Regions from separate parts of the Homo sapiens genome. Here region 2 is linked to region 1. Evidence: fine-mapped expression QTL. A gene starts in region 1. The other region holds a variant in brackets. All regions are shown on one strand. Distances are from middle to middle. Region 1 holds the start of CLIP3 (CAP-Gly domain containing linker protein 3). Region 2 overlaps WDR62 (WD repeat domain 62).

Region 1 (15,305 bases):
GACCCCCCTGGCCCCTGCGCCAACTCCTGAGCGGTCACAACCTGAAGTCCCTGCCCAACAGGCCCAGACCGGGCTGGGCCCAGTGCTGGGAGCACTGCAACGCCGGGTGCGGAGGCTGCAACGGTGCCAGGAGCGGCACCAGGCGCAGCTGCAGGCCCTGGAACGGCTGGCACAGCAGCTACACGGGGAGAGCCTGCTGGCACGGGCACGCCGGGGTCTGCAGCGCCTGGTGAGTGGCACCCCAGCCTGGCAGCCCCATCCATGGGTGGTGGCCTGGCCTGCAGTGTGTTTTCATTTTGTCTAGGATCCCCTATTCAAAAATCAGAACATTCAGCCGTGTTTCCAAATTTCTGGCTTTCCCGGGCTCAGTGGCTCACGCCTGTAATCCCAACACTTTGGGAGGCCAAGGCAGGAGGATTGCTGGAGGCCAGGAGTTCGAGACCAGCCTGGGCAACATAGCAAGCACTGTCTCTACAGAAAATTAAAACAAATTTCTAGGTTTTCCTGAAAAACAAAATCTGGCAATGCCAAGCAACTATTGGTTGGAGCTGAGTAATGATTGCTCCATTTACTAATACTAAATACTTAATATTTGAGAAGCTCTTATTGTCTGCCAGACACAGAGTTATAACATAGTGAGCTGAAAACTCACTATGACCCTTTGAGCTGGAGCTACAGGGTTAATTTTTTTTTTTTTTTTTGAGACGGAGTCTCGCTCTGTTGCCCAGGCTGGAGTGCAGTAGTGCAATCTCGGCTCACTGCAGCCTCTGCCTCCCAGGTTCAAGCGATTGTCCTGCCTCAGCCTCCCAAGTAGCTGGGACTACAGGTGCCCGCCACCACGCTCAGCTAATTTTTTGTATTTTTAGTACAGACAGGGTTTCACCGTGTTAGCCAGGATGGTCTCGATCTCCTCACCTCGTGATCCACCTGCCTTGGCGTCCCAAAATGCTGGTATTACAGGAGTGAGCCACCATGCCTGACTGCTACAAGGTTAATTTTTAAAAAATGCAGTGGCTCACATCTGTAATCCTAGCACTTTGGGAGGCCAAGGTGGGCAGATCGCTTGAACCTAGGAGTTCAAGACCAGCCTGGACAACATGGTAAGACTGTCTCACTAAAACACAAAAATTAGCATTGTGGTGGGCACATGTGGTCCCAGCTACTTGGGAGCCTGAGGCAGGAAGATCCCTTGAGCCCAGGAAGCAGAGACTGCAGTGAGCCAAGATCGCACCACTGCACTCTAGCCCGGGTGACCAAGCAAGGTCTCAAAAAAAACCAAAAACCACAACCAAACAAAAAACTCACTATGGTCTGTGTGCGGTGGCTCATGCCCGTAATCCCAGCACTTTGGGAGACCAAGGCAGGCAGATTGCTTGAGTTCGGGAGTTTGAAACCAGCCTGGGTAACATAGAGAAACCCTGTCTCTACTAAAAATACAAAAATTAGTTGGGCATGGTGGCGCACCTGTAATCCCAGCTACTTGGGAGGCTAAGGTGTGAGAATTGCTTGAACCCTGGAGGTGGAGGTTGCAGTAAGCCGAGATGGCACCACTGCACTCAAGCCTGGGCAACAGAGCGAGACGCCATCTCAAAAACAAAAACAAAAACAAAAAAAGGCCGGGTGTGGTGGCTCATGCCTATAACCTCAGCACTTTGGGAGGCTGAGGTGGGCAGATCACGAGGTCAGGAGTTCGAGACCAGCCTGGCCAACATGGTGAAACTCCATCTCTACTAAACATACAAAAAGTAGCCGGACGTGGTGGCACACGTCTGTAATCCCAGCTACTCGGGAGGCTGAGGGAGGAAAATTGCTTGAACCTGGGAAGCAGAGGTTGCAGTGAGCCGAGATTGTGCCATTGCACTCCAGCGTAGGCGACAAGAGCAACACTCCATCTCAAAAAACAAACAAAAAAAACCTCATTATAATCTTAATACTGCTGTTGTCTCTATCTTCCAGATGAAAAAATGGAGGCACAGAGCAGTCCAGTAGTGTGCCCACAGTCAGGCAGCCAACATGTTTCAGGGCCAGGATTCAAACCCAGGTGTCTGGCTGCAGAAGAGGCCTGTGAGAGCTTCCTGCCTGGCCCCTATAGAGCTGGAGTTTGCAATCTCTGTAATAGTGTCCCCCAGGCCCTATCTGAATCCCTTTTGCCTCTATATTTTACTGCTGGGTGTGTGTGTGTGTGTGTGTGTGTGTGTGTGTGTGTGTAGGGGAGGAATTTGAGGAAGGTGTTTGTGTGTGTGTGTGTGTGTAGGGGAGGAAGCTGAGGAAGGTGTGTGTGTGTGTGTGTGTGTGTGTGTGTGTGTGTAGGGGAGGAAGTTGAGGAAGGGTGTTATGTCTCTGTGTGTGGGGTGGCGGGGGAGGAAGATGAGGAATGGTGTTATGTCTCTGAAAATCACAGTTTGACCAAGGCGAAATTTCTCCTGTCTTAAAACCCTAGGGCCAAGCTTGAGGTGCCCAGCTTAGCCCCCATGGCTTTCAGAGCCCTGCTTGTATGAGAGAGATGCCCACACAGAGCTCTGAATGCTAGACTCACTGAAGGGGCTCAGGAAGGAGCCCCCACAGTACCTCTGGAGTTAAGGAGTATCCGATTTTTTTTTTTTTTTTTTTTGAGAAGGAGTCTTGCTCTGTTGCCCAGGCTGGAGTGGAGTGGTGCGATCTCAGCTCACTGCAACCTCTGCCTCTCTGGTTCAAGCGATTCTCCTGTCTCAGCCTCCCAAGTAGCTGGGATTACAGGCACGTGCCACCATGCCCAGCTAAGTTTTGTGTTTGTAGTAGAGACGGGGTTTTGCCATGTTGGCCAGGCTGGTCTTGAGCTCCTGACCTCAGGTAATCAGCCCACCTCGGCCTCCTATAGTGCTGGGATTACAGGTATGAGCCACCATGCCCAGCCAGGAGTCTCAGATTGATAGTCAGTGGTTTGGACATGACCCACAGATACAATTTGTTTGGCCTCCGCAGTGCTTTAAAATAATTTATAATGGCCGAGTGCAGTGGCTCACACCTGTAATCCCAGCACTTTGGGAGGCTGAAGCAGGTAGATGACTTGAGCCCAGGAGTTTGAGACCAGACTGGGCAACATGGTGAAACCCTGTCTCTACAAGAAACACAAAAAATTAGCCAAGTGTTGCACCTATAGTTCTAGCTATTTGAGAGGCTGAAGTGGGAGTATTGCTTGAGTCCAGAAGGTCAAGGCTTTAATGAACTGTGATTGTGCTACTGCACTCCAGCCTGGGTGACACTGTGAGACTCTGTCTCAAAAAAAAAAAAAAAAAAAAAGTCTGGTCTTTCCTGAAGGCTCTGCATATCTAGCAGCACTGGGCTTGGATTCTCAGGTGATAGCAGTTGGCTGGAGCTACAGTGTGGCTGCCTCTGGGGCCTTGAAGTTTGAGACTGTGGCCTGGGGCACAGAGGGACAGTGGGGCAGGGACAGAGCTCAGACTCGGGCCTGGGGCTCTTTGTGGAGCCTGCCAGATCCCCTGAGCTGACTGCCTCTCTCTGCCTCCCCTCCTGTCATTCAATCTCTGTCTCCTACTCATCTATCCCTACCTCCCAATCTCCTCCCTCCCCAACATTCATTGTCTTTCTGCCCATCATCTCTGTCCGCCACCTGTTTCCCCACCTCCCTGTGTCTCTCTTTATCTGCATATTTTCTGTCTCCCCCATATCTCTGACCCTGTCTGTACGTCTGTCTGCCTGCACATCTCTTTCCCCCACGTGTCTGCGTCTGTGCCCCCGCACTTCTCTTCCCATTTCCCCACCCTTCTTTCCTTTCCCATGAATGTCTCTCTGGCCCTCACATCTGCTTTCCTGTCTCCTCATATCTCTCCCCACATCTCTCTCTGTTTCCTGACACGCCCTCCTGCCACCTTTGCCTCCCTGTTCCTCACCGTTATCTGTCTGTCTCTCCCGCAACTTGCTTCGTAATGTTCCCCATCTCTACCACTTCTTTGCCTTAGACAACAGCCCAGACCCTTGGACCTGAGGAATCCCAAACCTTCACCATCATCTGTGGAGGGCCTGACATAGCCATGGTCCTTGCCCAGGACCCTGCACCTGCCACAGTGGATGCCAAGCCGGAGCTCCTGGACACTCGGATCCCCAGTGCATAAGGATCAAGACAGACAATGTCGAGGGACAAAAGATAGAAGATGGAGGAGGAAAGACATTATACGTGGGCTTGGCCCAGCCCCACCGCCCACGCCTGGGTAGTAGCAGTGCCTCCCTCAAGGGCCTGGGTTCTACCACCCCACTCCTAGGGATCTCTTGAACCTTAGGGGTGACCTGGGCCCAAGTCTCTCATCAGCCCCCAATCCCCTGGGTACCAGGCTTCTGCCACCCCCGGCTCAGATCTTTGCAAATCAGTACGACAGCCTCAGAGCAGAGCAAGGGTTGTTTGGGAGAATCATACCTGGTTCTAAGGAGTCCCACGCTTTTTGCCAAGCCTGGTACTGAGTTCATGATACCATGGTGGACACAGCTGAGAAAATCCCTGCCCTCATGGTGCTCATTCTACTTGAGTAGACGATGAACTAGTAAACAAATAAACAAGAACACTGCAGACATGAGCGATGAGTGCTATAAAGACAACAAAAATTTGGTTTGGGCCTGGGGGAGGGCCCTCCAAGGCCATGTTTTAGCAGAAACCTGGGTGATCAGAAGGGGCTGGCCTGGAGCGCTACAGGCTCAGGTTCCAGAGGACGAACAACCCCTGCAGTGAGGGCCTGCTGTCTGGGATGTGTCAGGTCTGGGAGGCGGTGTTGCTATGGAGAAAACCATAGTAGGGAAGGGAGGAAGGGGTGCAGTTTTAGAGCAGAGAAGGTGAAAAGACACCAACAAGTAAGATCCTAAAACAGGGCAGAGAGGGAGCCACGTAGGGATTTGGAGGAAGAGCATTCCGGGCATCACAAAGAGCCGTTGCAGGCCAGGCACGGTGGCTCACGCCTGTCGTCCCAGCACTTTGGGAAGCTGAGGCAGGCAGATAACCTAAGGTCAGGAGTTTGAGACCAGCCTGGCCAACATGGCGAAACCCCGTCCCTACTAAAAATACAAAAATTAGCTGGGTGTGGTGGCACAGGCCTGTAATCCCAGCTACTCGGGAGGCTGAGGCAGGAGAATCACTTGAACCTGGAAGACAGAGGTTGCAGTGAGCAGAGATCATGCCACTCCACTCCAGCCTGGGGAACAGTGAGACTGCCATCTCAAAAAAAAAAAAAAAAAAGAGCCAGTGCAAAGGTCCTGGGGTAGGGAGAAGCAAGGAGGCCAGTGTGGCTGGGGTGGAGTGAACAAAAGAGGGTGAGAGGAGGTGAGTGCAGAGATGATGGGGCAGGTTCACATAGGCCCTTGTGGGCCATGGCTGAGAGCCTTGGCTTCTACCTGGAGTGAGGTGCAGCAGGCAGACCCCTCTGAGGGAAAGAGGGCTCCAAAGTGACAGGTGTTCATGGGTCCCTGTGGCTGCATGTTGGAGGAGGACGGGGACAGCAGGTAAGAGGCTGCTGCCGTAGTGCTGGTGGCAGAAGAAGAAGGATGGACCAAGATGAGGGCCCAGGGTAGCGGTGGGGAGAGTGAGATCCTGGAAATCTTTTGGAGATGGAGCTACTGGACCTGTGCATTAGAAGGATGAGGTGTTCAAGGCTGTCACCCAGCCCCATCCAGGCTGGGATGATTTGAGGCAGAGCAGGCTACAGCTCCAGGTGGGAAGCCAAGCCATGACAATGGAGCCAGGACCCTGGGCTGGCTTCAGGAGGCCTCCGTGGGGAAGATACAGGTTCTGAGAGAGTTGGAGGGGTCAATCGGCAGATCTGTTTCCCAGACACTGCTACAGGCATGTAGCATGGTGATTAAGAATCAAAGCTGGGCATGGTGACTCGTGCCTGTAATCTCAGCGCTTTGGGTGGCAGGGGCAGGAGGATCCCTTGAGGTCAGGAGTTCAAGACCAGCCTGGGCAACATGGCAAAACCCTGTCTCAAAAAAAATTCTCCAGACATGGTGGCATGCACGTGTGGTCTCGGCTACTCGGGAGGTTGAGGTGGGAGGATGGCTTGAGCCCAGAAGTTTGACGCTGCAGTGAGCCAAGATCACAACACTGCACAGTAGCCTGGGTGACAGAGTGAGACCCTGTCTAGGAAATAATAAAAATAAAAATCAGACTTTACAGACTGTCTGGTTTCAAATGTTCGCTCCATCACCTACTCATGTACTTTTGGGCAAGCTGCTTAACCTCTGGGCCCCAGTGTGTGAGCCTCGCATTATGATGGTAAGGATGAGATGATCATGATAGGAGTCTCTAGGAAATCACCCCTCTGAGGCACCCATTATGAATGGTGAGCTTGGAGAAGGGGTCCGGTCTAGGGTCCTAGAGAGAGGGTCCCCTAGAGGGTCCCCATCGTCACCACGCCCCAAGACCACTGCCCTCACCGGCCTGGTTTGCAGGCGTGGGGGAAGGGGATGGAGAAGATCTGTGTCCGCTCTCTCAGCCCTCTCTTTTGCCGTTGTATCTGCTCATCTCGCTCCTTTCCGTAGCCATCTCTTCCTCTCCCAGTGCCCGGAGGCTCTCCCCTTTCAGTCGCCGCCTCTGGCCCCTCCATCAATGCGAGCGCCTCCCGGTCCCTCCTCCTGGTCCCTCCTCCCCCGCCGCCGGTAGGGGGGCAGCAGGCGCATGCGCAGTCGCGCCCCTCCCTCTCCGCCCCCACCCCCTGTCGGCGTCTGGGCCTCGTCCCCTTCTCTCTGTCTCCCTTGCCTCCCCCATCACGTCCCCTGACACCGACACCCCATTGCTCCCACAGTCTCCCCAGTCTCCACTTTGGTCCCCAGCGCTGTCTGCCCGAGGTAAGATGGGGAGGGGGCGGCCCGCGGAGAAGGGGAGGGGCGAAGCATCCTGAATCCCGAGATAAACAAACCCGGGGAGGGGGCAGCCGCGACTGAGGGGCCTGACGCGGGAGGAGAAGAATGGGGGGCTGGGCCTGGGGGAGGTGGCAGGCGCTGGGCGCACACACCGGGGCCCTCTATGGGTAACGGGGGTCCCTATGGTTGCCCAAGATCCAGTTGCGCGGAGGCCACCCGGGGCCCTGGAAGCTCCTAGGGGCTTGGACCCTGGAGCCTGCCGGGCACCCTCTCCAGCTGACCTCTGCCTCCAGGATTTGCCTGAAGGCTGCCCCCAACTCTGCACCCGCCCCCCGAGGGCCACCGAGGACCATGACTAAGACAGATCCTGCCCCGATGGCCCCGCCACCCCGAGGAGAGGAGGAAGAAGAGGAGGAGGAGGATGAACCCGTCCCCGAGGCCCCCAGCCCCACCCAGGAGCGCCGGCAGAAGCCTGTTGTGCACCCCTCGGCACCTGCCCCCCTCCCTAAGGACTACGGTAACCACTGTCCCCACCCTGGAATCTGGCCTGGAGCGTTGGGTGGCCGGGGAGGGTGGGCTGTGCTCTGCTGGTGGTGATGGTGGGAGAATTCTGGGGAATTTGAAGGTGGTCCAGAGGAATCTTGGCTGCAGAGCACCCCTCGTTAATTCATTCATTCACCCATTGGAGAATGGAATTGTAATACTCCTAGTCTTTGACTCATGACACATCATTCCATCATTTAGTCATTCAACAATCATTTTTTGAAAGCGGCTGTGGACCTGGCTTTATGCTAGGGGCTGGGGCCACAGCAGGGGGCAAGAGAGACCCAGTCTTTGCCCTGAGACAACTCACAGGCCTCAGTAACAGCCACACAAATAGGTATTAAACCATAATGTAATTTTTCACATTTAGGTTTATATGCAAGAAAGAAAAATATAATGTAATATAAATATGTAATTACAAGACATTATGAAAATTGTATTTACCATAAACAAGCTGCTGCAAGAGTTTTTTAAGACATTGTTTCCCTGAGGAGGTTACAGTTGAGAAGACTGGAGGGTGAGTTGGGGTTAACTAAGAGAAGGGTCAGGGGAAAGGGCTCCCAGGAGAGGTAACCGCTGGGTAAAGGATCTGAGGTAGGAGGGTATGGAGCTGAGAGGGCGGCCTCTTGGAGAAACTGAAAGTGTCTAATCATTGACCGAGCGATATTTATCGAGTGCTGCTACTCTGTGACAAGCCTTATGCTGGGTGCCGGAGATTTAATCCTAAGTGATCCAGGCATGATCCTCCCTTGCAGGAGAGAAGGAGAGACTAAACAAGTGAACAGATAAATAAATCAGAAATCAGATAAATTCAGATTGGAGCAAGTGCTATGAAAGAAAGAAAAGGTGGGCTGGGCATGGTGTCTCACGCCTGTAATCCCAGCACTTTGGGAGGCTGAGGCCAGCGGATCACCTGAGGTCAGGAGTTTGAGACCAGCCATGGCCAACATGGTGAAACCCCATCTCTACTAAAAATACAAAAATTGGCTGGGTATAGTGGCATATGTCTGTAATCCCAGCCACTCGGGAGGCTGAGGCAGTAGAATCGCTTGAACCTGGGAGGCAGAGGTTGCCCAAGATCGAGCCACTACACTCCAGCCTGAGTGACAGAGTAAGACTGTCTCAAAAAAAAAAAAAAAAAAGAAAAAAAAAAAAAAGAAAAGAAAAAAAGAAAAAAGAAAAAGAAATTAAAGGTGGAGATACGATAATGACTAGGGGGCAGCTACCTGCAGGGGTAGTCAGGGCTGCTCTTTCTGAGTAGGTAACATTTAGTTTGGGACCCAGAGCATGGGGAGGAATCAGCCATAAGAGAGCTGGAAAAAGAGTGTTCCAGGCAGACAGCAGCAAGTGCAAAGGCCCTGAGGCAGAATTGAACTTGGAACAGAAAGATCCTGGAGCTGCATTCAGGGAATGATCGAGGTTGAGGTGAGAGGTTGGCATAGGCCAGATCTGGAAGGGCCTTCAAGGCTACAGTGAGGACTTTGGTTATATTCTAAGTGGGACAGGGGAGAAGAGTGGCAAGGGGAGGGTGTTTAAGAGCAGAGGAGTGGCAGGTCTGATTTGTAGTTTGAAAGCTCCCTCTGGGTACTGGGTAGAAGGGGATGGAGTGCAGCCAGAGTTGGATGTAGGAGGGGAATTTGGAAGATATGCAGGCTGGGAATCCCCGGCAGCTGTGAGGTTCAGAAACCAGGTTCAGAGAGTCAGCGTTGCCAGGATAGAGCAAGACAGATGGCATCCATGGACATGTCACCCACTAGAGGTAGATCAGGGAGACTACAAGTTGACTTCAGTCTAATAGAAAAATAAGAAAGTTGGCTAGGCACAGTGGTTCTGGCTTATAATCCTAGCACTCTAGGAGGCCAAGGTGGGAGGATTGCTTGAGGCCAGGAGTTCGAGATCAGCCTGGGCAATGGAGCAAGACCCCATCTGTACAGAAAATTTAGAAATTAGCCAGGCATGGTGGGTACCTGTAGTCCCAGCTACTCCAGAGGCTGAGGTGGGAGGATCACTTGAGCCTGAGAATTCGATGCTGCAGTAAGCTAGGATTGCACCACTGCACTCCAGCTTGGGTGACACAGTGAGACCCTGTCTCAAAAAAAGAAAAAAGTAAAAGGAAGTTATCTGGGGCCTGAGGTCGGGGGGGTGCTGTACCTCAGAAAACTGGAAAATCTCCTTTGGAAATGCAGCTGGAGGTGGCTGGGGCCTCTGACTCAGTGGGAGGTCGGAGGGTATAGGCTGAGCCCTCCAAGCAGTCTTGCTTGTAGAGCGGGAGAGGTTTTGTCCCAGAATGTGAAGAAATCTGGAAATGTGGTCGAGGACAGGGAGAAGGCTAAGGTGGACTCCAAGAGGAAATCATGTATCTGTTAAATTTGTACATTAATTCAACAGAGATTGACTGAGCACCTACTGTGTGCCATGTGCTGTGCCTGGCCTTGGGGATAAAGGAGTGAATGAGGCAGAATAGAATCATAGCATTTAGATCCTAGTGAGGGAAGAAGAGAGGAAATGAAGGAGGGAGAAAGAGGAGTAAACATGTCAAGTAGTGATATGAGCTATGATAAAAATAAATAAATAAATAAAGGGCTGGGCATGGTGGCTCACACCTGTAATTTCAGTGCTTTGGGAAGCCAAAGTGGGAGGATCACTTGAGCCCAGGAGTTCGAGACCAGCCTGGGCAACATAGCAAAACGTTGTCACTACAAAAAAAAAAAAAATTGCTGGGCATGGTGATGTATACTGTAGTCCTAGCTACCAGGGAGGCTGAAGCAGGAGGATCACTTGAACCCAGGAGTTCAAGGCTGTAGTGAGCTATGATCATACTATTGCATTCCAACAGACCCTATTTTTTTTTTTTTTTTTGAGACGGACTCCAGGCTGGAGTGCAATGGTGCAATCTTGGCCCACTGCAACCTCTGCCTTCCGAGTTCAAGCGATTCTCCTGCCTCAGCCTCCTGAGTAGCTGGGATTACAGGCACTCACCACCACGCCCAGTTAATTTTTGTATTTTTAGTAGAGATGGAGTTTCACCATGTTGGTCAGGCTGGTCTCGAACTGCTGACCTCATGATCTGCCAGCCTTGGCCTCCCAAAGTGCTGGGATTCCAGGCGTGAGCCACCATGCCCAGCCAAGACCCTATCTCTAAAAAAAAAAAAAAAAAAAAAAAAAAAAAGAGTAGGAGATGGAGAAGGGCGGGTGCCGATTTAGACAGTGTGGTTTGGGAAGGCCTCTCTGAGGAGATGACATTTGAGCAAAGATTTATAAAGCTTTGTGAAGATGTGTGGGAAGTCTATCCTGAGTGAGAAGAACAGCAAGTGCCAAGACCCTGAGACAAGAATTTGCTTGGCACGTGGGAGGGACAGAGGGAGCCCAGTGTGGGAAATGAGGGAAGGGGAATAAGTGAGGGGAGAGGGCTGAGAACTGAGGGGCTGGATGTGCAGAGCCCTGAGGGCCGTGGGGAAGACTTTGGTCTGTACTCTGGATGGGTTGGGAGCTGGAGGAGGGTTCTAAGCCAAGAAGGGCTATGATGTGACTGCAGTTCTAAAAGGAGCATGCCGGCTGATTCCTGGAGACACCTTCTATGTGGCACTTCCCTGGGCTGTGTATAATCTGATCATTCATGTAGTCGTTCATTCACCACGCACTGAGTTCCTGCCACGTGCCAGGGCCCTGTGCTGGGTGCTGACGTCACAGAGAGCAGTACTCCTTAGAGTCGAGTGGGAAGAGACAGAAGTGCCTCTAGGCACCACCCTGGCTGGGCACAGGTTGATTCCTGCTCATGGATACATTTTATTTTATTTTCATTTTTATTTATTTATTTACTTTTTTTGAGATGGAGTCTCACTCTCTGTCACCCAGGCTGGAGTGCAGCGGCGCCATCTCAGCTCACTGCAGCCTTTGCCTCCTGAGTTCAAGTGATTCTCCTGCCTCAGCCTCCCGAGCAGCTGGGATTACCGGCGCCCACCACCACGCCTGGCTAATTTTTGTATTTTTGGTAGAGTCAGGGTTTCACCACGTTGGACCAGGCTGGTCTCGAACTCCTGACCTGAGGTGATCCGCCCGCCCCGGCCTCCAAAAGTGCTGGGATTACAGGCGTGAGCCACCGCGCACAGCCTCTATTTTTATTTTTTATATTTCCAGAGTCAGGGTCTTGCTCTGTTGCCCAGGCTGGCGTGTAGTGGCACAATCATGGCTCACTGCAGCCTTGAACTCCTGGGCTCAAGCAATCCTCCTGTCTCAATCTCCTTGAGTAGCACCAATGCGCACCACCACACCTGGCTAATTTTAAAACTTTTTGTAAAGACAGGGGTCTTGCTATGTTGCCCAGGCTGGTCTTGAACTTATGGGCTCAAGCAATCCTCCTGCCTCAGCCTCCCAACGCATTGGGATTACAGATGTGAACCACTGTGCCCAGTCATGGATACATTTGATGTGGACTGCATGGTATTTGAAACAATTGAGAGAGTTTTATTAAAAACCAGGACTTCTGGCTTTATTTATTTTTGCTCTGGAGATTCAGCCAAACTTCACTCATACTCTCACAGGGCAACAGTGGGTGAGGTCAGTAGCAGTCCCCCTGGACATGCAGACTCCAAGGTACTGCACTCTCTGTCAGGCTTTTGTTTCAGGGGGTGGAGTTTGCTGCTATATGGGAATTGCCTGATCTTCCAACTTTTCAAGACACACTGGGCATCGAGATTTTTATGTGAACCCACCTGAGTTTGAAACCTCATGCTGGCCACACAGAAAATGCCTGTGGGTTGACTGTGGCCCATGTGCCACCAGCTTGAGACCCTGCATTAGAGGCTCTAAAAGGCAAAGACCTACAGCTCCCCTACTGAGGCTGGAAGGAGGGGGTCAGTTGCGTGGGGTGACCTTGGACCTCTTGCCACCCCAGCTTTCACCTTCTTCGATCCCAATGACCCGGCGTGCCAGGAGATCCTGTTTGACCCTCAGACCACCATCCCCGAGCTGTTTGCCATTGTGCGCCAGTGGGTGCCCCAAGTCCAGCACAAGATAGACGTCATCGGCAATGAGGTGAGAACACTGGGGAAACCAGGGGGAGAGGGGATGCGGTTCCCCACATGTGTGGGTGACCCTCCCTGCTCCCCTGGTACTCACAGATTCTGCGCCGAGGCTGCCATGTGAACGATCGTGACGGGCTGACCGACATGACACTGCTCCACTATGCGTGCAAAGCTGGGGCCCACGGAGTCGGTGAGGGCCCCCTACCCCCAAGTCATAAGCCCCAAAGCCTAGGCCCCCAGACCCAACACGCTGAAAACCACCCAGAACTCAGGCCCCATCTGGAACCCGAAGCTTCGGATCCCAAAGTATAGTCCCTGAAGCCCAGGGTCCTCCCCGTGCACTGGGCCCATGCTCTGGAATGGGGGTTCCAAGCTGACCCGGCCTATCGCGCAGGGGACCCCGCGGCAGCCGTGCGCCTCTCGCAGCAGCTGCTGGCGCTGGGCGCAGATGTGACGCTGCGCAGCCGCTGGACCAACATGAACGCGCTTCACTACGCGGCCTATTTTGATGTGCCCGACCTCGTGCGTGTGCTGCTGAAGGGTGCGAGGCCGCGAGGTGAGGAGGAGAGCCCTGGCTGGGAGGGGGCAAGGACCTGGGTGAGGGACGCGGAGACCCAGGTGAGGCCAGGCTGCGAGGGGAAGGAGGACGGTGATCTGAGGAGATAGCGGGAGGTTGGAGGCGTGGGAGAGGGGGCTCAGGGACTACCACTCTAGGGAGGGTCGGGGCTGCCAAGGGAGAGGGGGGCTCCGAGGTGGGGGCGGGGCTCTGCGTCGGAGGCTCTGGGACCTGCAAGTTAAGAGATGAGCCCCGAGGTGGGAGGAGGGCTGGGGTCCCACAGGCGCTCACCCGGAACCCCTCCTCTTGCCCACTTCCAGTGGTGAACTCCACGTGCAGTGACTTCAACCACGGCTCAGCCCTGCACATCGCTGCTTCCAGCCTGTGCCTGGGCGCCGCCAAATGTTTGCTGGAGCACGGCGCCAACCCTGCGCTGAGGGTACTGCCACCCTTGCCCAGAACCCGTTACCCTCCTGCTCCCTTCCTCCCCCACTTCCCTCCAGCAGGTCTCTGCGTTTCCCGTGACTCCCCAAATACTACAAATGCCGTCTGTACATTCAGCAAATGCAATAACAGCTGAAATATGCCTAGTGTTCATTACATGTCAGGTGAAGTCTATTATAAGCCTTGTTTTACAATGGGGAAACTGAGGCAGAGATTAAGGGATCTGCCCAGGGTCATCCAGCCTATCCCATGGCAGTGCATAACAGCATTTCAAGGTCATGAGGAAAGTTGGGCTAGGCCTTCTGTGAATGAGAGGGTTGGTCCTCTCCTAAGCCCTCAATATGATCTTTGACCTCTGACCTATGCATTACCAGGCTCCATCCACAATGCTAATTACCCTGCAGCCGTCCAGGCACATGTATGTTGGGGTAACATGGCCTGTGCCCCTGAGACCCTGCCTCTCCCCATTTTCCACTGGCCCAGAGTTTGACTCCTGACTCTATACCACAGGAGCCCACTCTCACTCTCTCTAATTTTTTTTTTTTTTTTTTGAGACAGAGACTGGCTCTGTCATCCAGGCTGGAGTGCAGTGGTGCAATCTCGGCTCACTGCAACCTCTGCCTACCAGGTTCAAACGATTCTCCTGCCTCAGCCTCCCGAGTAGGTAGAATTATAGGCATGCGCCACCACACCCGGCTAATTTTTGTATTTTTAGTAGAGATGGAGTTTCACCATGTTGGCCAGGCTGGTCTCGAGCTCCTGACCTCAGGTGATCTGCCCACCTCGGCCTCACAAATTGCTAGGATTATAAGCATAAGCCACTGCACCCAGCCCACAGGAGCCCATTCTCAATGTTCATCTCCCACATGTCCTCATTACAGGCTTGGGGTCTCCAGAGATTGCCTCCCTGAGGGCGTGACCTACAGCACTGAAGTGTGGCCCTCATCCCTACTGCCTACACCCCCAGGCCCACCCTCAATTACTTGACACACCCCCAGCCCTGGGTCTCAGGGGTGGGTTTCCCTGGGGATGTGGTCTGCACCTTTCTGCCCTGCCCCTTCTTTTTTTTTTTTTTTGAGACGGAGTCTCGCTCTGTCACCCAGGCTGGAGTGCAGTAGCATGATCTTGGCTCACTGCAACCTCTGCTTCCCGGATTCAAGCGATTCTCCTGCCTCAGCCTCCCGAGTAGCTGGGATTACAGGCACACGCCACCACACCCGGCTAATTTTTGTATTTTTAGTACAGACGAGGTTTCACCATGTTGGCCAGGCTGGTCTTGAACTCCTGACCTCAAGCATCTGCCTGCCTCGGCCTCACAACGTACTGGGATTACAGGCGTGAGCCACCTTACCCCGCCTTGCCCTGACCCTTCTTATTCCCAGGTTGGCCCAGGATATGACCTAGTCTTACCCCTGCATCACCCAGACTGGTGGTCTCTAGGGGCAGGGCCTCCATGGGGGTGTGACCTGTGCCACTGAGTCCCTGCCTTCTTTTCCCATTGGCCCCCAGAATCGAAAAGGACAGGTGCCGGCGGAGGTGGTCCCAGATCCTATGGACATGTCCCTGGACAAGGCAGAGGCGGCACTGGTGGCCAAGGAGCTGCGGACGCTTCTGGAAGAGGCAGTGCCACTATCTTGCGCCCTCCCCAAGGTCACGCTACCCAACTATGACAACGTCCCAGGCAATCTCATGCTTAGCGCACTGGGCTTGCGCCTGGGAGACCGCGTGCTGCTGGATGGCCAGAAGGTCAGGGGCTGGGATGTGTGTTTGCATGGTGGGTGGGGGTGGGACTCAGCCCCTTAATCCCTTGGAGCTGCGTCCTCGGGCAGAGTGCAGTCCCTGCCCTTTGTCTACTTGCCGCCCTAACTATCCACCCAGTACTTGATTTTATCTCA
Region 2 (14,363 bases), 77 kb before region 1:
GGTGAGAAGAAGGAGGCCACGGAGGCCCCGCCCCTTGCATCAATGACCATCGCCACGTCCCTTTTCCTCCAAAAGACCCCCCAGTCAGGACGCACGGGGCCGCAATCCAGCCCCTCGCCTCTTGCCCCCGCCCTCTGGACCGTCGGATTTTTCGCTGGACCCGGCCCTCATCTCTGCACTCTCGAGTTCTCTCCGGACCCGCCCCGCCGCGACCGGGTCCCCAGCCTCCGCAGCCTGGGATCACCTCCGGGCCCGCCCAGTCACTCCCCGGCCCCTCCCAGCCTCCCCCTTCCGGGAACCCCCCAATTTCTTCGCCCCGCCCCTCCGGACCCCGCCCCCATGGCCACACCTTGAACTCAGCGATGGTGAGGCTGCGGCTGTATCGCTTCTCGGAGCGGAAGGTGTTGAGGGAGCTGCTGATGAAAACGGTCACCGTGGGTGCCGACACCCCCGTCACCTCCATCTTGCCGCGCCCTGCGGATGCCTGCAGCGCGGTCCAGCCGCCTCACACCCGCTCCGCAGCCGCCGCCGCCGCTGCTGCTGCTGGGCTATCAGCCCCGCCTCCTGCTCCGTGCCTGACCAATCCGCGCTCTCCTGCCAGGAGCGTCCGCCAATCGCCGCCGTCCCTTCCCCACCGCCAGGAAGAGGGCTCTCCTTACTCTTGGGCCAGCCCAGCCAATCCAGAGGGGCCTTCCATAGTTCACGGTTCTTCCAATAGCGGCCCGGGAAAGGACCAGAACAGGCGGCGAAGACTGAAGCCCGGAGGTAGGAGTGGCAAGAGCTCGCCCAGTCCGCGAAGGGTAAACTCGCGCATGCGCACTGGCCTTCAACCAAGCCAAGCGCCTTGGCTTCTGTCCTGGATGCTCAGTGTTTTGCGGTTTACGATGCGCATCGTTTTCCCGGCTCTGGCACCAGATCCATACTATTCTGTAAACTGAGGCGGCGATGCCCAAAAATTGGAAGCAATTACTCTAAGATATCAAAAGATTGAAGCAAGCCATGAAACCTCTGCGCGGAGAGAGCCGAGCCCGAGGCGGCGGGGAGCCAGCACGTGTGCGCAGCTCCGCCCTCTTTTGGCGAAGCACCTAGGCCTGGCCCCTCCCGCGACCTGTAGCGCGGCGGAGCAAGCGCGGAAGGCTGGGAGGGCTGCGCGGGCTGCGCGTCGCCATGGAGCCCGACGGGACTTACGAGCCGGGCTTCGTGGGTATTCGCTTCTGCCAGGAATGGTGAGGCGGAGGGAGCGGGTGATGTTAGAAGGCGGGCGAGGAATGGCTCCAGAACTAACCCCTGGCACCTCCCCCTCCCCACAGTAACAACATGCTGTACCCCAAGGAAGACAAGGAGAACCGCATTCTGCTCTACGCGGTGAGCGCCGGGGTCTTCCCCGGCAGGTCCACCTGTTCCCAGCGTGGCCCCGCCCTGCCCCCTGCCTCTGTGATCGGACTCCCTGTTCGCCCTCCGCTGCACCTCAAGTGATCCTGACTCTCATGTCCTGCCCATCCCCAAAGAGAGTCCTGTCGTCATATCCTCCGGGATCACCCTGCCCTCTCCTCCCAATCTTGTCTGGAATCCTTCCGTGACCCCCTTTCCCCCACACTCGCCCTCTCGTAGTGCCGGAACTGTGATTACCAGCAGGAGGCCGACAACAGCTGCATCTATGTCAACAAGATCACGCACGAAGTGGAGTGAGTGGCGGGCCCTGAGCTGGGGGCGGGGGTGTTGGCTCTGGAGGCTGGGTCTGAGCGTAATTTTGCACCCCCGCGTCCCTGCAGCGAACTGACCCAGATTATCGCCGACGTGTCCCAGGACCCCACGTTGCCGCGGACCGAGGACCACCCGTGCCAAAAGTGAGCGTTCAGCTGGTACTGGGGAGGTAAAGTGAGGCTCGTCTCCTCACTGGGCGAAGGGAGGAGGGAAGGGTGTGAAGCCTCCGGTGACCGAGCCCCTACCCTCTCAGGTGCGGCCACAAGGAGGCTGTGTTCTTCCAGTCACACAGTGCGCGGGCCGAGGTAAGTGGCGCGAGGGCTTTCTAAGTATCTGGGGCTTGTTTGGTCCTTTCTGGGGGCGGGGATATCAATGTGGGTGACCCTGCGCTTCTTGGAACTCTGCCGGGCCCTTACCTATTGGTGAAGTTCTCTTGCCTGTTCTTTTGGGGTAAGGCGCTGCTGGGTCCAAATCCTTCCTAACCATGCATCATTTCTGCCAGGACGCCATGCGCCTTTACTACGTGTGCACAGCCCCACACTGCGGCCACCGCTGGACCGAGTGACCTCCTCTCTCCCCCGAGTGTAATAAACACCAGATTCCATGCGTGAGTTTTCTGTGTTTATTTGCCTCGTGGGGAGGACGCTGGCACACCGTATCAGGCTGCGCGGTGCAGGGCGCGGTGCTGTGCGTAGGTGTCGGGCCGGGAGCTGGTGAAGCCGCAGTCCTCGCACACGTGCAGCTTCTCGCGGCGCTCACGGTAAGCGTAGCTGGCCGGCTGTCCATGCACCTTAGCAAGGTGAGCTTCCAGGGAGCAGCGCTGCGTAAACGCTTTCCCGCAAGCACTGCAGCGGAAGGGCCGGATCCCTGCACAGATGGGCGCAGAGGGGAGGGCTGGACAGAGAGGGCAATGGGCTCTGGACTAAAGCGCCCCCACCCTGCTTTCCAGTGTTGAGCATTTCTGGTACCTATTCCAAGCTCTTCAGACTCTTCCGCCCATGACCCACCATCTGCTACCGTCACCCAGTGCAGACATGGGCCAGACACCTGTGTCTCCACTCTCCCTCACCAGGATGCTCCCTCCCCTGGGGGATGGAGAGGGAGGCCTTCCCTTGCCTTTCGATCTGGAGCCTGAATCGTATAACCGGCATCCGTCTGCACTCTGCATTCCGTGACAGGCCCCTATTTTGGTGCCACCTTACACCCACCCACTGGGGTCCGAGAGACATCATGTCTTGATTCTCCATACCCCACATACACAAACCATGGACACTCCACAGCCCAGCACCTCTCTCCATTTCCTTCCATCCCCACCTGGGGCCCAGCAACTTTTCCCTGTCCCTGCCACTGCTCACCAGTGTGAGTCCTCATGTGGCGCTTGAGATCGAAGGCGTCATGAAAGCCCTTGCCACAACAGCGGCACAGGTGGCGGCGCACGGGGCTGTGGCACTTGAGGTGCCTTGTCAGCATGCGCTGCAGAGGGAAGGCCTTAGGGCAGAGCGGGCAGCCCAGCGTCCCAGGGCCCCTGGGAGCAGAGGTCAGGTTGCCCTGTGTGGGCTGCTGGAGGGATGCAGGAGTTATTAGCCTCTCTGGCTGGACCCCATCCACCCTTTGTTACTCTGCAAATGAGTATTTACAGAGTGTCCTGAGCCACCACGGAGGATTAGGAAGGCAGGTGGGAGACAGTGATTAGTGTGTGTGCCTGTCACTCTCCAGGGCCTTCCCTCACTATCCCATGGTCCTTACTTTCTCTATGCCAAGTCCCATCTTCTGATGTGACATACACATTTTTTTTTTTTAAAGACAGAGTCTTGCTCTGTCGCCCAGGCAGGAGTGAAGTGGTATGATGTCAGGTCACTGCAACCTCCGCCTCCCGGGTTCAAGCGATTCTAGTGCCTCAGCCTCCCCACGATTACACGATTGTAGGCATGCGCCACATGCCCAGTTAATTTTTTTATTTTTTGTAGAGATGGGGTTTCACCATGTTGGCCAGGCTGGTCTTGAATTCCTGACCTCAAGCAATCCACCCACCTTGGCCTCACAAAGTGCTGGGATTACAGGCATGAGCCACTATGCCCGGTCTATTTTTCTAATTTTATTGTTTTTTTTGAGGGGGGATGGAGTCTAGATCTGTTTCCCAGGCTGGAGTGCAGTGGCGCAGACTCGGCTCACTGCATCCTCTGCCCTGCCTCCTAGGTTCAACTGATTCTCCTGCCTCAGCCTCCTGAGGAGCTGGGATTACAGGCACGTGCCACCATGTCTGGCTAATGTTTGTAATTTTAGTAGAGACAAGGTTTCAACATGTTGGCCAGCCTGGTCTCGAACTCATGACCTCAAGTGATTCACCCGCCTCGGCCTCCCAAAGTGCTGGAATTACAGGCTGACTAATTTTATTGTCTATACATGCAGCCCCAACCAGAATATAAGCTCCATAAAATTGTGGATTTTTGTCTTATTCCCGCTGAATATAACAGCCCATGCCTAGAACAGTGCCTTGCTTTCATGAATATATTACATTCCGGCTGGCGCTTTCCTTCCTCCAATGCATGCACAGCTGAAAAAGCCCTTATCTCCCATCGCACTCCTGTTGCCTTGTCCCATGTTCTGACATAAAGCGGATCATCCACATGTGGGGATGAATCTTGTGCCCCGCTGGAAGAGATCCCTGTGGCTGCCGGCCCTGGTGCCTGGGGTGAGACCTAACAGTAGAGAGCTCACTACTAGGAAAGGAGAGGCATTCCCAACACAGAGAAGTAGGGGCGGACAGGTCCCGAGGCTGGAGGGCGTGTGCAGATGGGTCGGGGGAGCAAGGGGCTGTCAGCTTCATTAAGGCTGAGAGCAGGCAGGAGCGAAACAGCTGGCTTTGCTAGCCAGTTACACACTCACCGCTGTCCACGGATCCCTGACACTGGACGACTGTTGTGCCGGTGGCCCCCCCAGGCTGCTGCAGTCTGAGGAGAAAAGCCAGATGGTGACACTGCGTCTCTCCTGCCCCTTACCTCCAGGCACAGTGAGGGGCCCACCTGGGATATAGGCATCTCCCCGGAGCTGGTCAGGCAGATGGCCCCAGTTGGGGGGCTGTGGACGCCGACTCCTGACCAGGAAGGCGCGGGGCATGCCCTCCGGAAGGCTCTCCACACACAGGGGCTGCTTCCACCTGCTGTCAGACCTCAGCCCCAGGATGACTATCCCTGGTGGGAAAGGAGGGGAAGCCTCTGAGGAACCTCATTCTCTTCATGCAAATTTCCTGGCTGGCCCTGGGAGTGGACTAAGCTGGCTCAGGTTACCCCTGCCTGGGGACCTGCCCATCTTCTCCCAGGTTTTGGAGGGAACCATCCAGCCTCCAGGGGTGGACAAGCACTAGGACCACCAAGCAGAGCCAGGCAAGGGGAGATGGGCCTGGGGAGCTTTTGAGGATAGGAAGAAGAAACAAGGCCCCAGGGGGACTGTCTCCCAGGGGTTGAGGGTCTGTTTGCCAGGCAAATCAGTCACCAGGGGACATCCAGCAGCCTGCCTGGTTATTCAAATCACAGCAGCTGTCTGAGGACACTGAAGGGGCCCCCTGCTGTGATTGCCCTGCTCTGTAGGGTGCAGGGAGGACAGCAGATCTGGATAAATCAGGGCAAAATGAGGATCCAGGCTGTGCATCCTCAGGTAGGATGCCCCACCTCTCTGATCTTCAGATTCCCAGGGCTAACATTCAGCCAGAAGCACTGTTCAGGTGTAGCAGGCACTAAAATACTAGTTTGTTAATAATCTAGCCCCTAGTTACTGCCTGGGACAACACTCTTCCTCCCTCCCACAGTCTGGAAAGTAAAAGGGGGTCTCCTATTTTTTTTTCTTTTTTTGAGACGGAGTTTCACTCTTGTTGCCCAGGCTGGAGTGCAGTGGCACCATCTTGGCTCACTGGAACCTCCACCTCCCGGGTTCAAACGATTCTCCTGCCTCAGCCTCCTGAGTAGCTGGGACTACAGGCATGCACCACCACACCGGGCTAATTTTTGTATTTTTGGTAGAGACAGAGTTTCACCATGTTGGCCAGGCTAGTCTTGAACTCCTGACGTCAAGTGATCCGCCTGCCTTGGCCTCCCAAAGTGCTGGGATTACAGGCATGAGCCACCGCACCTGGCCCAAAGGGGGTCTCTTGACACAGCCAGGGGCTCCCAGGACCCTACCCCGGCACACTGGCCAAGCTGTTTTACACTTGATTCTTAGCCAGAAGACTAAGAAGCAATCCAAGCTCTGTTTTTTAATTTTTTTTTTTTGAGGCGGAGTTTTGCTCGTTGCCCAGGCTGGAGTGCAATGGCGTGATCTTGGCTCCTCTATGACCTCCGCCTCCTGGGTTCAAGTGAGTCTCCTGCCTCAGCCTTCCAAGTAGCTGGGATTACAGGGGCACACCACTGCACCCAGCTGATTTTTTGTGTTTTTTGTAGAGATGGGGTTTCACCATGTTGGCCAGGCTGGTCTCAAACTCCTAAATGCAGGTGATCCGCCCGGCTCAGCCTCCCAAAGTGCTGGGATTACAGGCGTGAGCCACCGCGCCCAACCTGTTTTTATTTTTTTTGTTTTGTTTTGTTTTGTTTTTTGAGACAGATTCTCACTCTGTTGCCCAGGCTGGAGTGCAGTGGTACGATCTCCACACACTGCAGCCTCCGTCTCCTGGGTTCAAGCGATTCTGCTGCCTCAGTCCCCCAAGTAGCTGGGACTACAGGTGCGCACCACCACACCCGGCTAATTTTTGTATTTTTAGTAGAGATAGGGTTTCACCATGTTGGGCAGGCTGGTCTCAAACTCCTGACCTCGAGTGATCCACCTGCCTCAACCTCCCAAAGTGCTGGGATTACAGGCGTGAGCCATTGCGCCTGGCAACTAAACAATTTTCTAAGCTCCAGACCTAGCTTACTGAAAATGATCGCGTAAGTCCATGAAGGAGGCACACCAGTGACAGCCCAGAATGACCAAGACAGTGAGAGGCAAGTGAGGCAGAGACCCAGCCATGATGGGGAAAAGAGGGGTACCTGGGGACCCGAACAGGCTCCTGATCCAGGCTACGGGTACAGGGATGGCTTCCTGGATAAGCGCTGAAAGGTTTCAGATGAAAGGGGAGGGTGTTCTAGTCAGAGGGGGACATCTGTACAAGGCTTGCTGGTGAGAGGAGTATTTCTTCATTTCTTTACATTGCCCGAGAGTCAGTTGTGCCAATTCATTTGGGGAAGCAAGGGTGGCAGTGCTGAGGGTCTGCTGGCCATGCATTTCCGCTTGCTCTCTGCAGGACCCAGAGCAAGTCATTTCTCATTGGGCCTCGGTTTCTTCACCTGGAAAATGAGACTAAGGAATCTCCCTCTTCCCAGTTTGTATTGAAGATCCATGTAGCTCACATGGAGAGAATGCTTAGCATGGGGCCTGGCATGTGGCAGACATATAAGCAGGGATTGGTTAGGAAGGTTTTTTTTTTTTTTTTTTTTTGAGACAGGGCCTTGCTTTGTCACCTAGGCTGGAGTGCAGTGGAGTGAACACAGCTCACTGTAGCCTCAAGCTCCTGGGCTCAAGTGATCCTCCCACATCAACCTCCCAAGTAGCTGGGACTACAGGCGTGCACCACCACACCTAGCTAATTTTAAAATTTTTTGTAGAGGTGGAGTCTTGCTATGTTGCCTAGGGCTGGTTTTGAACTCCTGAGCTCAAACCGTCTGCCTGCCTTGGCCTCCCAAAGTGTTGGGATTACAGGAATGAGCCACTGCATCCTGCCGAGGAATCCCTCCTCTGGGCAAACATCCAGGCCTCAGGTGGGTCATCTGCAAAATGGGGTTTCAGGTGGTGTCTCCATTTTGCAATTGTTGGCTTTCCTGCAGCCCTGACTGGGATGCCTGGCACGGGCCTGGCAGCTCAGGACCCAGGAGCTGTCCTGATGGTACTGCTATGGGGAGGCCAAGGGTAGATGTGGGGGTAGAAGCAGGGGGGGAGTTGCAGTGAAAGATGAACTGTTTTCCTTCCAGGGACCCAGTTCCCCAGGAACCCTCTCAGTCCTGTTCTGCCCTGCTCCATGGCCTAGGAGGTTGACTGGAGGCGGGGTCACCTGGGCTTCTATGCACTCTGGCTTCCAGTAGGATTTGGACAATGGGGTGCCCTGCAGGAGGGGAGTAAGGTCAGGGTGTTGATTCTCACTCCGTCCTGTGTGGGAGTCAGGGCTGCAGCTCCCTCAGCACTACCCTCTCCCTGGGATTTGCTCTTTTGGGTTCTTGTTCCTTCTCTTTGTGCCTTGTGGCCTGGGGGTGGTAACAGCTCCCAGGGTGCCAGTCCTGGGGTTCTGCACCAGCCTCGGTGGTTTCCCAGTCCCTGCTGCTCCTTTGCAAATGATCCCTTGGTTAAACTCTTTGGAATATCCCATCTAAGCATGCTGTCATCTTTCTGCTGGGACCCTGTCAGCTCACAAACCACATGCACACATGCTGCACCACCAGCAGTGGCTTCTTAACCAGGTGGTTTATCCTGGTTAAGAAGTATGGAGAAAGTATGGTCCTTCCAGGACAGAGCCTGGCATTTGGAAGAGGGAAGTGGCAGACATGCTGGATCCTCTCTGATTACCAGCCCACTTGCCTTTCTTATTGAGAGAACCTCTTTGTTTGAGCTGCAACATGCCCAGGACAGGAGAGATGGTCCAAGCACATCAAAGCAATCTCCATTCCTGTTGCCTGGGACTCATCTGACCCCAGATGAGTCTCCCAGGGAGACCCCTGGGAGAGATCTGCATCTTTTCTGCTGCCCTAGAGGGTGCCCTGCTCTGTGCCTTTGCTCCTGGTTGGACCAGGCCACCCAGCAGCTGGGACCAATAACTTGGGCCTCTGACCCTCATGTCATTGTGCACCTGGCCTCTTCCTCTCCTGCTGTCACCCTCTGTGAGCCCCCTGCACTCCACATCTAACCTCAGCCTCCCCATAGCAGTACTATCGGGGCAGCTTCTAGCTCCTGCGCTTCCAGGCTTATGCCAGGCACTTCAGTCAGGGCTGCAGGAAAGCCAACAATTGCAAAATGGAGACACCACCTGAGGGTGTGCTGCTGGGTGCCACAGCAGCCGTGTTGCAACCATGAGGCCATAAGCTGGAGACTGAAGCTTGCTCACAGAGGATAACAGAGCAGGAGAGGAAGAGGCCAGGTGCATGATGACATCAAGGGTAACCAACGTCCCTCCATCTTGGGCCCTGAAAGCCAGGTGTTTACTCCTTGGAGCAGAAGACTTTACTATGATACAGGTTGGAAGGAAGGGTAATTCCATGCATGACAGAGGCCCAAGGTGGTCTCCTGGGTGTCCGAGGCCTGGGGGGCTGAACACCAAGCTTTGCCCAGGGATGTTGGGCAAGGTTTTGGGCAATGGTGGCCGAACTAGGCAGATGGGCCTAGGCCTAGGCAGGTGGTTCAAGTTCTGGACCACCTGGACTCCCTGAGGCAGAGTCGTGAGAAATAAGCAACACTGGATATCCCCCAAACATTAAGAGCAGAGATTTAGAAACAAACCCAAAAACAAAAAACTGTTCTGGATATTCCTTGGACTTAAATGTTATGAAGCAACAAGGCCCTGCTCCTCCTTGCACCTCAGCTCCTGCCCTCCCCTTGCTCACTCCATTCCAGCCGTCCGGGCTTCGCTCCTCTTGCTTCCACACAGATCACGTGTGGCTGCCCCAGGCCTGTGCACTGGCTGTGCTGTCGGCCTGGATGTGTTCCTGAGATGTCCTCTATCAAGCTTCAGCCCAAATGTCACCTCGAAAGGCCTTCCCTGACCCTTCACCAGCAATGGATCTCCCCAACCTATCTAGAATTATACAGAGCTCTAATTCCTGCATCTGTTTGACTGTATAGAAGGTGAGTGGCCATGAGGGCAGGTGCGTTGCCTGATGTTCCTTCTGCTACAGTGCCCGGCACCTGGGTGGGAACTGGCAGGATTTTTTTTTTTTTTTTTTTTGAGACTTGCTGTGTCACCCAGGCTGAAGTACAATGATGGTGTGATCTCAGCTCACTGAAACCTCTGCCTCCTGGGTTTGAGCGATTCTCCTGCCTCAACCTCCTGAGTAGCTGGGACTACAGGTGTGCACCACCACACCCCAGCCAAGAGTGGCTTTTTTAGCAGACACCCCATGTGGCCAGATGCCTGCTGTCTGGGGGAGCTGGTAGCAGTGCTGGGAGCTCGTGGAATGTAGAACTTCTGAAGGGGAAGCAGTTATTGGTCCCAGCTGCTCGTGGCCTGGGCCTGCTGCCAGGATCATACAGTGGGCAAGCCTGCCTGGGTTTCTTGTTTTATTTTGTTTTATTTAAAGAGACGGGGTTTTGGCCAGGTGCGGTGGCTCATGCCTGTAATCCCAGCACTTTGGGAGGCCGAGGTGGGCGGATCTCCCAAGGTCAGGAGTTTGAGACCAGCCTGGCCAACATGGCAAAACCCCGTCTCTACTAAAAATACAAAAATCAGCTGAGTATGGTGGTGGGTGCCTGTAATCCCAGCTACTCGGGAGGCTGAGGCAGGAGAATCGCTTGAACCCGGGAGGCGGAGGTTGCAGTGAGCCAAGATCGCACCACTGCACTCTAGCCTGGATGACACAGCAAGATTCCATCTCAAAAACAAAAATAAATAAATAAATACATGAAATAAAGAGATGGGGTTTCACCAAGTTGCCCAGGCTGGTCTCAAACTCCTGGCCTCAAGCGATCCTCCCACCTCAGCCTCCTGAGTAGCCGGGATTATAGGTGCAGGCCACCATACCCAGCTTGGGCAAGCCTGTTCATGGGTCCTCAGTTTCCCCTGTTGCAGATGGGGACACCACCACCGTGGACTTTGTGGGATCTAGTGTGGCCTTGGCCCAGAGGCCCTGAGCCATGATATGGCAAAGCGTGGACTGCTGGGCAAGGTAGGCACATGGTGATCACAGCAGCCCCAGTGAGTTCTCAGGCACTGGCAGGGGGCAGGTAAGAGGGTCTGGCTCCTCCCTGGGGCACAAATGGGCCCCACTGGGTAAGCACCTCACACTGGTCTGTGGCAGCTCTGTGGGCAGTGTGGGAGGACTGGCCCTGAGGTCATGGCTGCAGTTCCTGAACTTCTTGGGAGCGCTGGTCCCATGCTCTCCACTGACAGACACGAGTCCTCTGGGCATC[A/C]CCTTCTACCCTCCCTCCCCACTTCCACTTGAAGAGGGCTTTGTGGATAGGCCCAAACAGACACCAGGAACCATTCCTCAAAGCTGTCAGTTTATTCGCTTAAAATACCTAAGTCCTCAGAAGCAGCAGGGCTGCGGTGGAGGGGCTGCGCCCTCAGTGCCCCCGTGCCTTCCTCCGCACGGCCTGCACCAGCAGCTCCGAGTAGTGTTCCAGCAGGGCCTGCAGGTCTGGGCTGGCCAGGGGGTACAGCGTCGGTGGGGACGGGGGTCCTGGGCTGGGCAGAGCCTGGGCTGGGGCCACACTAGTCCCCACCAGGCATTCAGCCTCCAGCTGGCTGTGGATCCACAGGAAGGTGGAGACCAGCTCAGTCCGTGCCTGCTGCTGCCCGGTGTCCACCTGGCCACTGGAGACCAACTGCAAGGGATGCCAGCCTTGTCAGGGGCCACCAAGGCCGGGCGGTCTCAAGAGACCCCTCAACCCTTTCCCAACTCTGGGGCTTAGCTCACCACACGGTAAAGGTCGAGGGCTTCTTGGAAGGTGGTCTGCAGCCTGTGCAAGATGTTCCCCACCCTGCTCAGCTCAAGGGGAGATGGGGGCAGGGCTTCAACCGGCACCCAGGGCTCACTCCAGCGGGCAGGGCTGCCCTGTAACAGACCAAGTGCACCTGGGGTAGAGAGAAGGGAATGAGCAAGATGAGCTGCATTCCATTGGTGTGAGCGGCCAGAGCGACTGGGTGGACTCCATGCTGTACTTCTGTCTGGAACACTTCTCTGGGTCCCCAAGGCTCCCTCCCCTTCACTCCTACAGGTCTCTGCTCCAATGCAGCCTCCTCCCTGAAGCCTCTTCTTATCTTCTGGTTTGTAATCCCAACCCCTGTCCCCACCCTGCACTCCCTCGCCCTCCTCTGTCCCTCCTAAGCATGTGTCACTTCGTGATACATATGACGGGTTCCTTAAAGGTTTAGTCTGGGCATTGTCCCCATTGAAGCTGTCAGTTCTCTGTGTTGTTTACCACCATGTCCCATGTCCCAGGGTTTAGCACAAAGCCCAACATGTAATGCTCATTAAATATTTAAGTTAATGCACGAATGAATGAATGGCACAGTCCCTGTGGCCAGGTCAAGTATCCATCTTTGGAGCTGAGCCAACTAGCACACAGGATGAGCTTAGGGGACAGTCCTTGCTCCAGGGCTGTACTCACCGGAGGTGGGCTCCAGGAGGGAGGCAGTGCCGCCAGGGATGCCAGGCCGGGCCTCTGGAAGCTGGGGGTTACTGGGGTGGGCAGGAAGGCCAGGGGACTCAGGAGCTGGGAGACTTGGGCGAAAGGCAGAGCCGTGGAGCCTCAGGGCGCTCTCTTCCACAGGGCTAGGGGCTGGGAAGCTCACTGCAGGGACGGTGACGCCAGGCTGGGTATCCACGGGGGGCTGCAGGAGCCCATCACAGGCACTTGACAGGGTCAGTCTCAGGTTGGCCCGGGCCTCGTGGTTGCCCCAGGAACGCAGGGCAGGCTCTTGGCCCTCACTGTCCAAACTGGGTGTTGTCGCGGTGGTGATGGCCTGAAGCTCCTGGCCCAAGGAGGCCAGCTCCCCAACGGACGATGGCCTACGGAGGGGCTGGGCCAGTGTGGCCACGATAGGGCCCTCACTGTCACCGAGGGAGATGCTGCGTGATATCCTGGCACGGGAGCTGGCAGTGGCCTCCATGTAGGAACAGGTGGAGGGGGCATGGACACCCTGAGCCAGGCCTGGGGTGGGTGCAGATGTGGGCGTTGGGAGATTCCTGTCTGTGGGCAGCACGGAGGAAGCAGGGACACAGGACGCCAGGCTCGTAAGGCAGGGAGCTGTAACGGAAGCAGATGGCACTGACTCCACCACACAGAACTGATGGCTAGGGCCCCCACGCCCCACAGCTAGGCTGGACATCCGGCCACTCGCCGAGAAACCCAGGACTGTCCGTCTGGGACTGGGGCACTCACGTGGTGGGCGCCAGGCCTCCAGGGTCTCTTCAGCCTTCCCTGCAGCGAGGACCTGCAGGCACAGCTCTGAGGTGAGGACAAGGCCTCAGGGTTCCCAGCCCCGTGCCCTGACGGAGGTGGGCCCAATACTCACGTGGGTCCTGTCTGGGGAGGCGTAGCCAGTACCTGCTCTGGGCTGGCTTCCGCCTCGGTCCATGAGCTTGACCTCTGGAGACTTCACAAGGCACTGGGTTGCCCGGGGAGGGAAGGTATGGGTGAACCTGTGGGGAGGAGAGCAGGGGGGATGATTCTCATTCAGCCTGCCCTGGGGCACTGTTGAGGAGCCAGAGGGTGGGCAGTGCTTGGCCAGCTTCTACCTGGATGCCTTCTGGAGGCTTGAGAGGAACTGCGTGGAGATACTCAGGCGTGGGTTGAAGAAGTGGTCTTCAGCTTCAGAGGCCTCCACGTCTCCCAGAGCTGCGGGGAAGAGCTCTAGGGGAAGATCCCGAGGGGACCCTCATAACCCTTCCCGCCGAGCAGCCCTGGCCCTAGGCCAGCCCACAGCCCAGCGGGGCACTCCCCAGAAACCCTTATGTACAGACACAGGGTACGAGCAGGGGCAGTGGGTGAGGAGGCATCGTGAGGCTCAGGTCAAGAGTGAAGCAGTGGGCCGGGCACGGTGGCTCACGCCTGTAATCCCAGCACTTTGGGAGGCCAAGGCGGGCAGATCATCTGAGGCAGGAGTTTGAGACCAGTCTGGCCAACATGGTGAAACCTCATCTCTACTAAAAATACAAAAAATTAGCAGGGCGTGGTTGTGGATGCCTATAATCCCAGCTACTCAGGAGGCTGAGGCAGGAGAATTGCTTGAACCAGGGAGTCGGAGGTTGCAGTGAGCCAAGATTGGGCCACCGCACTCCAGCCTGGCAACAGAGCGAGACTCCGTCTCAAAAAAAACGAAGCAGTTGCTCTCCACTCACCCTCCTGGCCCTGCTGGGGAGCCAACTCCAGGGACGCCAATGCTGTGCCCAGGCTGCACAGACGGCCTCGGCAGGTGTGGGTGAGGCAGGGCCCTACCTCTGCAGGGGGACTCAGTCAGTGTCTCAAAGTGGTGGCGGAGGAACTTCTCCTGCTCCGGAGTCTGGGGTAGGGAGCTGCTGGGGACGCTGGGTCCCTCGGGCAGGGACAGCTCATCTTCTGTGGGACCTGCGCATCCTGACAGGGAAGGAGGGGAGGGACAAGAGGAGCCAACACCATGAGTCACAGCAGACGCCACCTGAAATGGAGAAAGCGGGCCCCACCCATCCCTGCCCTGTTGCCCGCAGGCTGAGAAGCAGGGATCCCCGTCTTCCAGGCTCAGTGGGCTCCAAGTGCAGGGCCTGTGCTTAGACATTGTGACTGGCCCTAAGCCAGGCCCGAGCAGCGAGTCCCCTGCGTGTCTGGCCCCTGCTTACCTGGGAAATGGGGCAGCGACGTGGCAAACCGAGGGGCAGGGTCAGGAGGCGGAGCTGGGGAGTGGATGGCTGCGAAGCTGCACTCCAGGTCGGCCTCTGACTCCCCCGAGTCTG

The links. PIP is the estimated chance that this variant, and not a neighbour inherited with it, causes the effect.
Region 2: its variant is fine-mapped to the expression of CLIP3 in whole blood (INTERVAL, PIP above 0.99).

The regions. Positions count from the first base shown.
Region 1 is chr19:36,024,247-36,039,551 of GRCh38, reverse strand. CLIP3 (CAP-Gly domain containing linker protein 3) reads left to right here and starts at 6,679. Exons shown (of 14, transcript NM_015526.3): 1 at 6,679-6,828; 2 at 7,137-7,360; 3 at 12,281-12,420; 4 at 12,507-12,600; 5 at 12,805-12,966; 6 at 13,287-13,405; 7 at 14,920-15,156. The coding sequence starts at 7,195. It overlaps THAP8 (THAP domain containing 8), which reads left to right. Exons shown (of 4, transcript NM_152658.3): 3 at 1-229; 4 at 3,960-4,568. The coding sequence ends at 4,112. The region is part of intron 3 of LOC101927572 (a long non-coding RNA gene); the gene reads right to left. RefSeq lists a silencer at 3,780-3,953.
Region 2 is chr19:36,101,661-36,116,023 of GRCh38, reverse strand. WDR62 (WD repeat domain 62) reads right to left here. Exons shown (of 32, transcript NM_001083961.2): 25 at 14,250-14,360; 26 at 13,873-14,010; 27 at 13,173-13,287; 28 at 12,950-13,076; 29 at 12,817-12,868; 30 at 12,043-12,681; 31 at 11,349-11,506; 32 at 10,916-11,256. The coding sequence ends at 10,996. OVOL3 (ovo like zinc finger 3) reads right to left here and starts at 4,881. Exons shown (of 4, transcript NM_001302757.2): 1 at 4,728-4,881; 2 at 4,591-4,655; 3 at 3,060-3,264; 4 at 2,313-2,571. The coding sequence starts at 4,821. The coding sequence ends at 2,363. POLR2I (RNA polymerase II subunit I) reads left to right here and starts at 1,149. Exons shown (of 6, transcript NM_006233.5): 1 at 1,149-1,226; 2 at 1,311-1,365; 3 at 1,612-1,685; 4 at 1,773-1,847; 5 at 1,958-2,009; 6 at 2,207-2,315. The coding sequence starts at 1,168. The coding sequence ends at 2,269. It overlaps TBCB (tubulin folding cofactor B), which reads right to left and starts at 556. Exons shown (of 6, transcript NM_001281.3): 1 at 350-556. The coding sequence starts at 463. RefSeq lists a silencer at 226-315 and enhancers at 1,506-1,635, 1,654-2,165, 4,022-4,651, 4,652-5,282. The variant A/C (reference allele first, on the strand shown) is at 10,843.